Linked DNA regions of Homo sapiens: region 2 is linked to region 1. A link means that fine-mapping ties the variant in region 1 to the expression of a gene that starts in the linked region. Tissue or cell type: prefrontal cortex. Region 1 holds a variant in brackets; the other region holds the start of a gene. All regions are shown on one strand. Distances are from middle to middle.

Region 1 (7,776 bases):
CCTCCCAAAGTGCCGGGATTACAGGCGTGAGCCACTGCACCCAGCCTCCTGATTTTATTATTGAATCACCACCTTATCATCAAAAACCAATAAGTGTGTATTTTTAGTGCTGAGGTACTGTTTCTTTTCAGAAGAGGCCCTTGAGATGCGCTGGGCGTGTTCCCGCCATGTCCTCGTGGCCTGGCCCTCCAGGGCATGTTCCCACCATGTCGTCATGGCCCGGCCTCTGCGCCAGCACCTTTTGCCCATCCCACCTCTTGTGTTCTCACCATTAATCACATTCCTGGTGGAAATGATAGCACCGAGGCTCCTGTAATTAACACCCCACACGGCATCGCTGTGTCACTTCCTCGGTTAAAAATGTGGCCGTTTGTGGTGGTGCATGCCTGTGATCCCAGCGCTTTGGGAGGCTGAGACAGGAGGATCACTTGAGCCTGGGAGGTCGAGGCTGCAGAGAGCTGTGATCGCACCACTGCACACCAGCCTGGGCGACAGAGCCTCAAAAATGTTTAAATGTCCTTCCTCAGAATCCGAGAGCAAGAGAAGAAGGAGGAGATGGAGTGCCACGAGTACATGAGGCGACGCATGGATGCGGTGGTGGCGCTGAAGGGCAGCATCTCCGCGAACCGGGTAGGCCCCCGCAGCCCCACCCAGCCTCTCCCTTGGCGCCCTGCCGGGGTCCGTCCCTGGGCCCCTGCTCCTTGGGAGCCAGGCCCGTGTCCTCTGGCGTCCAGGGCTGACCCGCGCACTTGGTGACCCCTGGAGGCTTCCCGAGCCTGTGCCACAGATTTGCCCACGGGTTCCGTGTGGGTCAGGGCCAGGCACTGGAGTCAGGCAGGAGCAGGCACCCCAGCCCTGCTCCCATGGGGCCTGGTCTTGTTGGGGAAGCAGTGGCGTCCTCATGAGACACATGGAGGGCCTGGGTGCCTCGAGGCCATGCCCTGGGGCCAAGGCTGGGGATTCAGGCTGGGAAAATGGAGGGAAGAGTGGGAACAGCATCTGCAAAGGCTCAGAGGTGAGGAGCAGAGGCGGGCAGGTGACGTGCAGGGACACCCAGCCCCACGCTTGGGATGTGCGGACAGTTTGCCAGTGGTCTCTCACAGGATCTGCAGGCGTCAACATTGGTTTAAGGACATCTGTTCAACGGCCCAGTGTGTGAGCATGTGTGTGTGCACGTTTGCATGTGTGTGTGCATGTGTGCATGTGTGACCGTGTGTGCACGTGTGTGCATGTGTGACCGTGTGTGTGCAGGTGTGCATGTGTGTGCACGTGTGTGCAGGTGTGCAAGTGTCTGCAGGTGTGCATGTGTGAGCGTGTATGTGCACGTGTGTGCAGGTTTGCATGTGTGTGCATGCGTGAGTGTGTGCATGTGTGTGCAGGCGTGCACGCGTATGTGTGCAGGTGTGCATGTAAGCACGTCTGTGCACGTGTGTGCAGGTGTGCATGTGTGTCCAGGTGTGCATGTGCGAGCATGTGTGTGCACGTGTGAGCATGTGTGTGCACACGTGTGCAGGTGTGCATGTATGAGTGTGTGCAGGTGTGCGTGTGTGAGCATGTGTGTGCACGTGTGTGCAGGTGTGCATGTGTGATGTGTGCATGTGCAGGTGTGCGTGTGTGTGTGCACGTGTGTGCAGGTGTGCATGTGTGATGTGTGCATGTGCAGGTGTGCATGTGTGTGTGCACGTGTGTGCACGTGTGCATGTATGAACCTGTGTGTGCACATGTGCAGGTGTGAGCGTGTGCATGTGCCCGTGGGTGCTGCTGCTGTCATCTCAGTGCTCTCTGTTTCCAAGGACACACTGCGGAAGTTCCAAGCATGGGACCGTGCCAAGGCAGAGCTGGCGGAGCAGAGGGTCCAGGCTGAGAAGAAGGCGATTCTGGCCCAGGGCAGGGATGCATTCAGGCACCTTGTCCACCAGCGCCGGCGCCAGGAGCTGGAGGCCCAGAAGAGGTGAGGGTGGTGGCAGAGGTGCCACCGGGAGGCACCCGCCCAGTCAGTGGGTGCAGGGAGAGCCAAGGGGGTTCGGCTTCACATTGAGCAAAGCTGCTCTCTCTCCCAGGGCGCCCACTCAGGCGGCTGTGGGGCACGGGAACAGGGGCTCCAGGCTGCTACCCTTGCCCTGCCTGGGCCTGACTCAGCCTGCCCAGCCCTGCCCCTACTCCAGTCCACGCCCAACCCTCGGCCCCTTCTCCCCTCCCAGACGCTGAAACCCCGGCCCCTGTCGAGAGCCTCCGGCTCCTGTCCTGACTTCTCACAAGGAGGGACTGGCGGGCTCTTTCCTGGCCCACCCAGAAGTCTCCAGGGAGCACCAGGCCCCTCCAGGGAACCTGGTGCTGCTGGGCCTGCCCTTGCTCACTCCCTGTCCAGGGCCGTCCACCTGGCTTCCTGCTGCCACGGCCTTGGGGCCCTCCTGGCCCCTCAGACCACCTCCTGCCAGCTTGGGTCCGTGGTGAACACGTTGCTTCTGGCTTCACTCTCTGTTCTTCTCCAAACGGGGGCCCATGTTGCCCTCTCGGACCCCCCACCCACGGGCCCCACTGGGCTTCCTGAGATCCAGACCTCGGGGCCAGGTTCCTACAAGGCCCCTCTCTCCCGCTCAGTCTCGCCTTTCCCAGCCCTGCCCGTAACGCTCCCCAGTGACCTCCACGCAAACCACCCTGTCCTGGGTTTTGCCCGAAGCTGCCCTCATCCCGGGAGCCTGGCCCTTTCTCCCCATCCCAGTCTCCCTGTCCACGGCCCTGGCCAATCACTGCTTAGGATCTGCCTGGGCGGGGGCTCCTGGCCCTCTCACTGGGCAAGGCATCCTCCTCTGGGTGCCACAGAGCCCTGAGTGCGTCCTCCCCACCCCCCTGAGTCACGATCAGAGTTCTCCACCACCCATCAGCCTGCCCACCTGGGCGGGGGGGTCCTGGCAGCAGCTCCACCGCCTATACATCCCTTAGCCTGGCGCAGGCCTGGCATGTAGGAGGCACCCGGGAAGTGCAGCTGCAGTGAGTGGATGAACATCTTTAGCCCTGGTGCTACTCTCAGTGGCAGCCCCACGCCAGCCTAGAAATAAGGGCTTGGAAGAAGCCCTCCGGGCAGCCAAGGCTGCTGGGGGACTGGGCTGCGAAGTGGGCAGGGCTGGGCCGGGCAGGGCTGGGCTGGGCAGGGCTGGGCAGGACTGGACTTGGAAGGGATGGGCTGGGCTGGGCAGGGCAGGGCTAAGCTGGGCAAGGCTGGGCTTGGCAGGGCTGGACTGGGAAGGTCTGGGCTGGGCTGGGCAGGGCAGGGCTGGGCAAGGCAGGGCTGGGCAGTGCAGGGCTGGGCTGGGAAGGCCTGGGCTGGGCAGGGCAGGGCAGGGCTGGGTTGGGCAGGGCTGGGCAGGGCTGGGTTGGGCAGGGCAGGGCTGGGCAGGGCTAGGCTGGGCTGGGCAGGGCTGGGCAGGGCTGGGCAGGACTGAGCAGGACTGGGCTTGGCAGGGATGGACTGGGCAGGGCAGGGCTGGGGTTTAAGCCTGGAACCTCTGGCTTGGCCTCTGCCCATCTGCTTCCCACTGGAGCTTGCGTTTAGCTCCAGGACCAGGAAGTTCCCACCCCAAGAGCCCTGCTGGGTAGGATGGAGTCCCCAGGAGGGAGCTAGGGAGGGGCCGCCAGGCGCTGTCTCACCTGGGGCTGCTGGGCAGGACCGGAGCCCCCAGGAGGGCGCTAGGGAGGGGCCGCCGGGCACTGTCTCATCTGGGGCAAGGTGGAGGCAGGGGACCTCTTGCACTCATCTGAGAAGCGACTCCACGCAGGGCCTTTGAGGAGGAGCAGAAGCTCAGAAAGCAGGAGATCATCAGTCGGATTCTGAAAGAGGAGGCTGAGGAGGAAAAGAGGAAGAAACAGCATCCCCCCACCAGTGCCAGGCACCGGCTGACCCTGAGGGACAAGACCTGGAACTACATTTCTGACTTTTGCAAGAAGA[C/T]CACAGTCCCAACCAACACGTACACACTGGTGAGCAAAACGCCTTCCTGTAGACAGAAGCCGCACACCTGTGGAGGGCAGGTGGGGCCTCAGGGCTCAGGTGTGGTGAGACATCCTCTGAGGACCTCAGCACCATGGCCACCTGCAGGGGGTTGCTGAGCCCGCTGAGTGGCCGCCACTCAGCTCAAGGACAAGGGGACAAGACACACTACGGACCCACCACATGAGAGAGGCCCATGGCCGCAGCATCCCCAGCAAGGGTCCAGTGTCCTCCTGGTCTCGGTGTGCCCACCAGACCCTGCGTCACCCCCAGCAGTGTTGCTGCCCACCAGGCTGGGACCACCTTGCCTGGCCCTGTAGAGCTGGGTCAGCCGCCTGCCAGGGAGATGTGCACAGCCGTTCAGACCACATGCCTGGGATCACCCTGCTACAAAGCACTCCTGATAGCACCTAGAGGACAGCTTTCCTATCACTCATTCATTCACTCACTCATCCTTTATTCGTTCACTCACTCATTCTTTCTTCATTCATTCACTCACTCATTCTTCATTCATTCACTCATTCATTCACTCATTCACTCTTTACTCATTCACTCATTCATTCACTCACTCACTGATACACTTATTCATTCACTCATTCACTCATTCATTCACTCATTCGCTCACTCATTCACTCATTCATTCTTTACTCATTCACTCATTCACTCACTCACTGATTCACTCATTCATTCATTCACTCACACATTCACTTATTCACTCACTTACTCATTCACTCACTCACTCACATCCAGGGCCTGCTTGGTGTCCACTGCTGCTGCAGGCAACTGGCTTCAGTTGGGGGAATGTATTTCTAGTTTACCTTTCCCTAAAGGTGTGGGGTAGGGACGATGGTCCTCTCCTGAGTCTGGCACAGTGCTGCAGTCTCTGCCCTTGTGTACCCCAAAACCTGAAGGTCAAGGTCACTGCTGCAACCGATGCCCTGCTGGGAAAGAGAAAGCCTTGGGCTGCCTCAGCTTTGGCCTCCACAGGGTCTCTGCGGTGCCCTTCAGGGCACCAGAGAAGGTCCTTTCCTGCTACCCAGGCTCCCAGTGCCTGGGCTGAGCCTTTGCCCCATCCACCCCTCACTGCCCGTCTCACGCCGGGGCCTTTGCACCCGCCGATCCCTCCGCCAGGAGCACCCTGCTGCGCCTCCTTGCTCCAGAGAAGCCTCCCCTGCCCCCACCCCCACCCGTGAGCTGCTCCCTGCGATTTTCTGTGGCACCACCTGTGGCACTATACAGGTCACAGTAACAGCAATGCGCTGGCCCCGTCCAGACTTCCTGTCTGTCGCTCCATAGGACGGTCCCCAGGAAGAAGAACCCTGTCTACCCGGCCCAGTTCCCCCTTCTCCAGCAGGCCTGGGACAGAGCCAGAGCAGATAGGCAAGGCTCCGTCCCCAAACTCATTCTGAGGAAACCACCACAGCCATCCTCCTGGGGTCAGCCTGGGGCTTTTCCCGGGCATGGCTTATATCCACAGAAATGAGAACTGCGCCAGGCGCGGTGGCTCACACCTGTAATCCCAGTACTTTGGGAGGCTAGGGTGAGTGGATCATGAGATCAAGAGTTCGAGACCAGCCTGGCCAACATAGTGAAACCCCATCTCTACTAAAAATACAAAAAATTAGCTGGGTGTGGTGGCGGGCGCCTGCAATCCCAGCTACTCGGGAGGCTGAGGCAGGAGAATCATGTGAACCCGGGAGATAGAAGTTGCAGTGAGCTGAGATCGCGCTGCTACACTCTAGCCCAGGTGACAGTGCAAGACTGCGTCTCAAAAAAAAAAAAAAAAATGAGAACAGATGAGTGCCTGAGGATCGGCGCCAAGGATGCCAGTCCGTGAATTAGAACATTTTCCTATCAAAGGAAATATTTTGCAGACTCTTCTGAGCATTGTAGAAAAATATTTAATAATGTATTAAAATACTTATATTTCAAGTAGAAAAAGTTACAAAACCGTGTGCACCGCTATCTCCATGCAGAGTACGTGAGGCAGAAGAACGGGGGCAGGCAGCGGGCCATACCGGCGGGGGCTGGGCCGAGTTTCTCTTCCCTGTTCTCTGTCATGAGCGTGTCTTTGCGATGTTCCTCTCCCCGACTGCAGGACTACGAGGCTGCTGCAGGCCCCGGGCCCTCTCGGTTGCTGGAAGTCGTTTCCAGTGAGCTTATCCAGGGGGACCCCGGGGCCAGCTCAGAGGAGGAAACGTTAGCTGAGCCCGAGATCTCTGGGCTTTGGAATGAAGACTACAAGCCATACCAGGTATCAGCTCCTGCTCCTTTAGACGCTTGCAGACGGACCCCGGCCCTCTGTCGCCGGCTCGCCACCTCCCACGCCTGCCCCGGCCACACCAGCTGCTCTGAGGCTTCTCCTGGCTGTGCCTGCCATCTCCCGCCACCCTCTCCTGTGTGTGGACGCCCCCCGCCTCCCTCTCCACACTCATGCCTTTCCCTCTTCGCGGAGCCTGGAGGGCACCACGCGTGCTCGACGACCCCAAGCTCCCCCTGACAGACAGCTCGGTCACCATGGTGTAACGGGGAGGGACGGTGGGGCTCCAAAGCTGAAAGGCTGAGGGAATGACTCTGAGCTACTCCGTGTACTATTGGAGAAGCATCTTTCTAGAAGAAGCGTGCAAACTTTCTTTGACGGCCTTTTGTAAGAAACATGCCCCATCTGGCGCTGGGGTCCTTCTGCCTCTGAAAGAGCAGTTACAGCAAGACACGGTCTCTGCAGCAGTGTGGCTCAGGCTGTGGCCCTGTCCCACGTGGGAGGGCAATGCCCGCCGCCCGGTTTCTGTAAGCATTGGCCACCTCTACTGTCAGGGCAAAAGCCACCTGGTTCTGCTGGTTCTGGGGATGCCGGGCTGACCAGGGTGGTGAACAAGACAGGCCAGGCAGAGCCACCACCTGCCCACTGGGGACACCCAAGGGAGAAGGCTGCCTCTGGACAAGAGGAGGGTGCCAAGTGCCCCCCCCACCCCGGGAAGCCAGGGAGGAGGCTGCCCGGCTGCCGGGCATGGGCACCAGCAGGGACAGCCCACAGCCCAGAGCCAGGACCCACGCAGAGTCCAAGCAGCTTCTGAAGGGACAGTTCAGGACTCCAGTTCTGATCTTCCTGGTTGCTGGTGTTGGCCAGGGAAGCGGCTTTTCATCTGAGAAAGCCCAGTGTGTGCTGACACTGCCCGCTCGAGAAAACTGCTTCCTGCAGAACCTTTCAAAACCTTCCTCTTGTCCTGATTTAACAATCTGGAAAGTTCCCCCTCCACATCATTTCCCAGAAATCCACCTGAATCTGGAGCTGTCTGCTCTTGTTTCCTGGTTTCCTCTTTTTTGGAAGTGAGGGGTCCCTGCCTTGTCAATGGAGCAGAAAGTCAGTCGGTCCCCAGGGCCTTTCTGAGCAACTCAGAGCAACTCCCCGGGCCATGGGGCTCTTCCCAGCTCCAGCGCTGGTGGCAGCCGGTGGGGCTGGGCTGTCCGTGCTCTGCTAACCGCTACCCTCGCCTCCGAGCTGCCACCGGCGCCGCCCAGGTGGAGCCGCTAACAGCCCCAGCCTCTGTCTCTGTGACCCCCAGGTGCCCAAGGAGGACGTGGACCGAAAGCCCGTGGGCGGGACAAAGATGGACAAGGACATCCTGGAGCGCACGGTGGAGCGGCTGCGGAGCAGGGTGGTCCACAAGCAGGTGGTGTGGGGGCGTGAGTTCCAAGGACGCCCCTTCAACAGCAAACCGGAGCTCCTCCACTTCCAGGTGAGCCCGCAGCTGGGCCAGGAACGGGACGGGCAGCAGCACAGGACAGCAGGG
Region 2 (6,360 bases), 34 kb before region 1:
GGGCTTGAGCAATCCATCCTGCAGCTTCCCAAGTAGCTGGGACTACAGGCTCAAGCCACCATGCCTGGCTCAATTTTTTTTACTTAACAATATGTTCTGGAGTCACTCCACAGCAGAACATAGAAATAAATGGTCCTTATACCTTCTTTACAGCTGACCTCCATCGTGTAGCTGTTCCACAGCTTCCTTAACCAACCAGTTCCATGGACACGGGGCTGTTCTCAGGCTGTCACTGTCCTTTCCTTCTTTCCTAGACAGTATATATATATATATAGAGAGAGAGAGAGAGAGAACGAGAGAGAGAGAGAGAGAGAGAGTTGGAGTCTCGCTCTGTTGCCCAGGCTGGAGTGCAGTAGTGTGATCTTGGCTCACTGCAAACTCTGCTTCCTAGGTTCAAGTGATTCTCCTGTGTCAGCCTCTCGAGTAGCTGGGATTACAGGCATGCGCCACCACGCCCAGCTAGTTTTTGTATTTTAGTAGACAGGGGTTTCACCATGTTGGCCAGGCGGGTCTCGAACTCCTGACCTCAGGTGATCCACCTGCCTTGGCCTCCCAAAGTGCTGGGATTATAGGCGTGAGCCACTGTGCCCGGCCCTTTCCTAGAAAGTATATTAACAGTTCATTGGGAAAGGTCCAGGGAGGCAAAGTTGATAAGGAAGAAGCCCTATCATTTCCGTGGAGTCGGGAAGAAGTATAATCTCTCTTATAAAAGCGAACCTGGGCTGGTAATGGTGGCTTGGTTCTATTCCTCAGATTCTGAGGAGGAAAGCGATCTGGCACTGCGGAAGGTGGGTGAGTGCAGAGGTGCTGTGGTGTCACCCAGCTACTTTCCACAGCCATTCTCACGGGTGCTGGGCATTCTGCAAGGTGTCTTGCCTCTGATGGATCAGGTTATGGGCCAGGATAAAACCAAAGGACCTCCCAGGCCTCACTGTGGCATCAGGAGCCGGCCACCCTGCAAGCCCTACACATGGCGGGCTGAAAGACTGCCAGGGTAGGGGACGCGTCCAATTCACTCGTGAGCCCAGTTCTTGGCATAGAGTGGCCCGGTGAGAGACCACTCCCTTTCCTCACACTCCCATGTCTCCATTGCAAACGGCCCCCACGGACCAGCGGTGCGAGAAGAGGCTCCGGTGTAACAGGATGCACAGTGAGATGGGCTGGGCAGCGGGGGATGGGGACTGTGGGAAAGGCAATGGGGAACGTCGGAACCGGCTTGGCATGTTGGGCCCATCTTCCGTTTTGTTTTTTGTTTGTTTGTTTGTCTTGAGACAGAGTCTCGCTCTGTCGTTCAGGCTGGAGTGCAGTGGCGCAATCTTGGCTCGCTGCAACCTCCACCTCCCGGGTTCAAACGATTCTCCTGCCTCAGCCTCTGGGGTAGCTGGGACTGCAGGTGTGCGCCACCACACCCGGCTAATTTTTGTATTTTTAGTAGAGACAGGGTTTCACCATGTTGACCAGGATAGTCTCGAACTCCTGACCTCAAGTGATCTGCCCAACTCAGCCTCCCAAAGTGCTGGGATTACAGGCATGAGCCACTGTGCCCAACCGGGTTTTTGCTGTTTTTAATTTTGAAACAGGGTCTTGATTTCGCTCAGGCCAGAGTGTGATGGCACCATCATAGCTCACTGACTTTGCTATTTACTTTTACAATTTTTCAGTTGGAGCCTTTGCTGGAACATAACATTCAGAAGTCTTTTTTTTTTTTTTTTTTTTTTTGAGCCGGAGTCTCACTCTGTCATCCAGGCTGGAGTGCAGTGGTACGATCTTGGCTCACTGCAACCTCCTCCTCCTGGATTCAAGCGATTCTCCTGCCTCAGCCTCCTGAGTAGCTGGGATTACAGGCAGCTGCCACCATGCCCTGCTAATTTTTGTATATTTAGAAGAGACGGGGTTTCACCATGTTGGCGAAGCTGGTCTCGAACTCCTGACCTCAAGTGATCCGTCCACCTCGGCCTCCTAAATTGTTGGGATGACAGGTGTGAGCCACCGCGCCCAGCCCGATCTTCCATTTGCAAGAGAAGAGGAAAATCCCCATTTTCACGGGAAACCTCCTAGTTTTTTAGGTTGACAAACGACTCCAAACCATCATGCACCCGCCCCGGTCCTCTGGGCCAACGCGCCGGTGCTGAGCTCCTCCAGGCCCCCCAAGTCTGTCTGTCACCTCCAAGCCTTGGCCCTGGGCCAGGCCTGGCTGTCTGGGACCCCGGAGACGTCCCCGCCCCGCGGCCTGTGGCCTGGCCCTTCAGCCGCGCCTCGGGGCCCGCGACCTCCTTGCCCCGGCCCCGGCCCGCGCGGTCGGTGGTGGGTCGGACCAAACCACCCGCTCCAGCCGGGGAGCAGAACGGGCGAGGCTCCCCCTCCGGCCACGATGGAGTCTTCCGTTGCCATGGAGCTGCCCGCCCCAAACCACGCCGCCGGCGCCGCGGAGGGCAATCGCCAAGGACCGCCGCCTGCCTGAGCAGCCCGGGGTGTCTGTGCCTCCGGAGCCCGAGAACCTGGGACCCAGGCCAGCCAGAGGTGGGTGTGGGGGCGGATGCGTTTGACCCTGGGGCTGAGCTGGAAGGGTTTGACCCCCGCCCCCCAGGCAGAACTCCGTCCCATATGAAACGCCTTTCCCGGAAAGCTGTGCCAGAAAAATGACTTTGTTAATAGTTCTAGTCCCTGGTTCGTTTCAGGGAACCCCGGCGCTGGCACAGCCTCTGTTGAGGGACCCGCCCCTGACTTTGCAGCAGATGTTATAATAAAGTATTATTATAACACATTTACAAAAACATTAAACAAAAATCAAGGGCCAGCCTGTCTGGTGAACAGTTAAGACTCGTGAGTGTCTGCCTAGCTAAAAAGGAGAGCATGGTCCATAGCCCCAAAGTCATTTAGTTTTAGTATGTATAACCTAGTTTTGGAAGCTGATTTGCCTCTAGTATTTTGTTTTTCTTAAAGGAATACTCCTTTTATCTGCATAAGCCAGGTACTGAGGTAGTAAGCAGGCCTGCTGTAGGGCCCACAGTTGAAAAGAAATGGACTGATATTCTCTGCATAACGATGGTGCATAAATGCGCATGTGCGACTTAGAGATTGGTTATAAATCGAACATCAGTAGCCACTACCCAAGTTAAGAAATAGAACCTCATCAGCACCCCAAAGTCTCTCCCCCATGCCACTCACAGACCCGCTCTTCTTGACCATGGCTGACTTTTTCTTTAGTTTTACTACCTATGCATGCGTCCCTAAACAATATAGTTAACTTTCACTTATTTTAAACTTTATATAAACTTTATATTTATATAAAATTTTAAAGATGATATATAAATTTCTTTAGTTTTACTACCTATGCATGTGTCCCTAAACAATATAGTTAACTTTCACTTATTTTAAACTTTATATAAACTTTATATAAAATTTTAAAGAATATATGTGGTGTTATATAAACAATATATAATATAAATATATAGACTATATATAATGCCACATATAGTTTTATGTAAGTTTAATAATATATATTAAACTTCATATAATACTACATATATTCTTTAAATTTTTGTTTTTTTGAGACAGAGTCTCACTGTGTTGCCCAGGTTGGAATGCAGCAGGGCGATCTCGGCTCACTGCAACCTCCACCTCCTGGGTTCAAGCGATTCTCCTGCCTCAGCCTCCCAAGTAGCTGGGATTATAGCATGCCTGGCTAATTTTTGTATTTTTAGTATAGACGGGGTTTCCGCGTGTTGGCCAGGATGGTCTTGAACTCCTGATCTCAAATGATCCACCCACCTCCGCCTCCCAAAGTGCTGGAATTACAGGCGGTGAGCCACCACACCCAGCCAACTTTCATTTATTTTAAATTTTATATAAATTTATTTATATAAAATTTTAAAGAATATGTGTGGTATTATATAAGGTTTATATAAGTTTAATAATATATATAAACTTTATGTAATACCACATACATTCTTTAACATTTTTTGAAACAATCCCAAACTTGTATAAAAGTTGCAAGCTCAGCACAAAAAAACTTCTCGTGAAGGATTTGAGAGTAAGTTGCCTTCATGATGCTCTGTCGCCCCCCACCCTTGTAGAGTGTATTTTCCACAAACGAGGACATTCTCCAACACAGCCACACATGGCCCGAGTCAGGAGAGGACACAGGCCTGTTGCCGTGTTTACCCCTCAGCCTGTCAAACACGCTTTGCCAGTTGATTGCATCAGGGCCCCAGCGTGGAAGGATCCAGCCTAGAGTCACTTTGCACTGAATTCTCACATACCTCTTTATTCCCCTTCAGTCCAGAACATTCCTTGGCCTTGCTTTGGCTGTCATGACCCTGACACCTCTGAAGGTCATGGGCCAATTACTTTGGAGAAAGTCCCTCCATTTGGTTTCGTCTGCTGTGTCCTCGTGATTAGATTCCCACTGCACGTCTCGGACAGGAAAGTCGCAGAGGTGACACCGTGGCCTGTTCATTCCATCCAGTCAGTGGCTCACAGTGGTCACGTTGTCACGTTACTGATGATGTTCACTTTGAGCTCTTGATTAAGGTGGTATCTGCCAACATCTCCACTGGGAAGTTCTTTTTTCCTTCGTAATTAACAAGCATTTTGGCCGGGTGCAGTGGCTCACGCCTGTAATCCCAGCACTTTGGGAGGCTGAGGAGGGCGGATCACGAGGTCAGTAGATCGAGACCATCCTGGCTAACACGGTGAAACCGTCTCTACTAAAAATACAAAAATTAGCCAGGTGTGGTGGCGGTTGCCTGTAGTCCCAGCTACTCGGGAGGCTGAGGCAGGAGAATGGCGTGAACCCAGGAGGCGGAGTTTGCAGTGAGCCGACCCTGCGCCACTGCACTCCAGCCTGGGCGACAGAGCGAGACTCCGTCTCAAAAAAAAAAAAACAAAATGAAAAACAAAACAAAACAAAAACACAAGCATTTTGTAGGAGGTATTTGGAAGCTATGCAAATATGTCATCACTCCCAGGCTTGGCCTGGGAGGCTCTCATGGTGGACACCTTCTTCTCCTGCCTGGGCTCTGATACCCTCTGCTGGACCACACCTGGGGCCGCCCTCTTTCTTCTCAGGCTCTGACATCCAGCTCTGAGCCTCAGCCACGCACACCGGCACCCTCCTCACCCAGCCAGGCACCTGCAAACAGCTCTGAGCCTCAGCCACATACCCTCACCCTCCTCACCCAGCCAGGCTCCGACAGCCCAGCCTGGGCCACTGTGGATCCTGCTCCACCTGCCCTACCCAGGGAACCTACTGTGACAGTGAAGGGAAGGGGGAGAGGAAGAGCATCAGGCGGGCCTCTGTCTTTTTCTCCTCGGGGTTGTGCGAGAGATTCATCCACACAGTGGCACCGTGGCCATCGGGGCTGTCTCTAAGCCTCAGGACCTGAGAATATGACCTTATTTGGACTTACAGTGATGCCTGTAAGTAGCTAAGAGGAGGACATACTAGAATAGGGTGAGTGCCTCATCTGGTATGACCGGTGTCCTTATAAAAAGGAGAAATTTGGACATACAAATGCACACAGAGAGAATGTCCTATGAAGATTGGAATTTTGCTGCCACAAGCCACAGAACTAGCAGAAGCTAAAAGAGAGGCCTGAAACAGGCCCTTCCCTCGTGCCTTCAGAGGAAGCATGGCCCTGCCATCAACTCGGTTTTAGACGATGGCTTCCAGAACCGTGAGACAACTCTGTTGTTGAAGCCACCTAGGTTGTGGTACTTTGTTATGGCGACCCCGGGAAGCTAACACAACAGGTGGGATTTTCTGTAGGGTGTGCTCCTGGGAGAGGAATCGCAGAGCCAGAGGGTGCCATAGGCAGGATGATCTCCCCCTTCCCCAAAAAACCCATGTCCTGGTCCTCCGAACCCATGCGCGTGTTAGGGGACGTGGCACGTCCTTAACTGTGAAGTGCCTGTTGACGTCTTTTGCCCATTTTGCTGTGGGGCTGTCTGTCTTTATCCATTCATGGATATTCCTTACATGGTCTTGACAGTAAAATTCTGGGTTATGTGCTGTGATTGTCTTCTACTTTGTAGGTTTTCTTTTTTCTTTTTTTTGAGATGGAGTCTCGCTCTGTCGCCCAGGCTGGAGTGCAGTGGCACGATCTCAGCTCACTGCAACCTCCACCTCACCAGTTCAAGCAACTCTCCTGCTTCAACCTCCTGAGGAGCTGGGACTCCAGGCGCCTGCACCACACCTGGCTAATTTTTTGTATTTTTAGTAGAGACGGGGTTTCACCGTGTTAGCCAGGATGGTCTTGATCTCCTGACCTCATGATCCGCCCGCCTCAGCCTCCCAAAGTGCTGGGATTACAGGCGTGAGCCACCGCGCCCGGCCTGTAGGTTTTCTTTAACTTTCCC

What was found. PIP is the estimated chance that this variant, and not a neighbour inherited with it, causes the effect.
Region 2: CFAP74 starts here. The variant in region 1 is the best candidate, but not a certain one, in a credible set for the expression of CFAP74 in prefrontal cortex (CommonMind, PIP 0.80).

Annotation. Positions count from the first base shown.
Region 1 is chr1:1,964,834-1,972,609 of GRCh38, reverse strand. CFAP74 (cilia and flagella associated protein 74) reads left to right here. Exons shown (of 39, transcript NM_001304360.2): 9 at 528-630; 10 at 1,794-1,951; 11 at 3,777-3,975; 12 at 6,084-6,239; 13 at 7,549-7,722. Among named protein-coding and RNA genes, the nearest start is that of CFAP74, 35 kb to the left of the region's middle. RefSeq lists an enhancer at 1,146-1,927. The variant C/T (reference allele first, on the strand shown) is at 3,947.
Region 2 is chr1:1,999,861-2,006,220 of GRCh38, reverse strand. It overlaps CFAP74 (cilia and flagella associated protein 74), which reads left to right and starts at 2,435. Exons shown (of 39, transcript NM_001304360.2): 1 at 2,435-2,520. RefSeq lists a silencer at 2,277-2,571.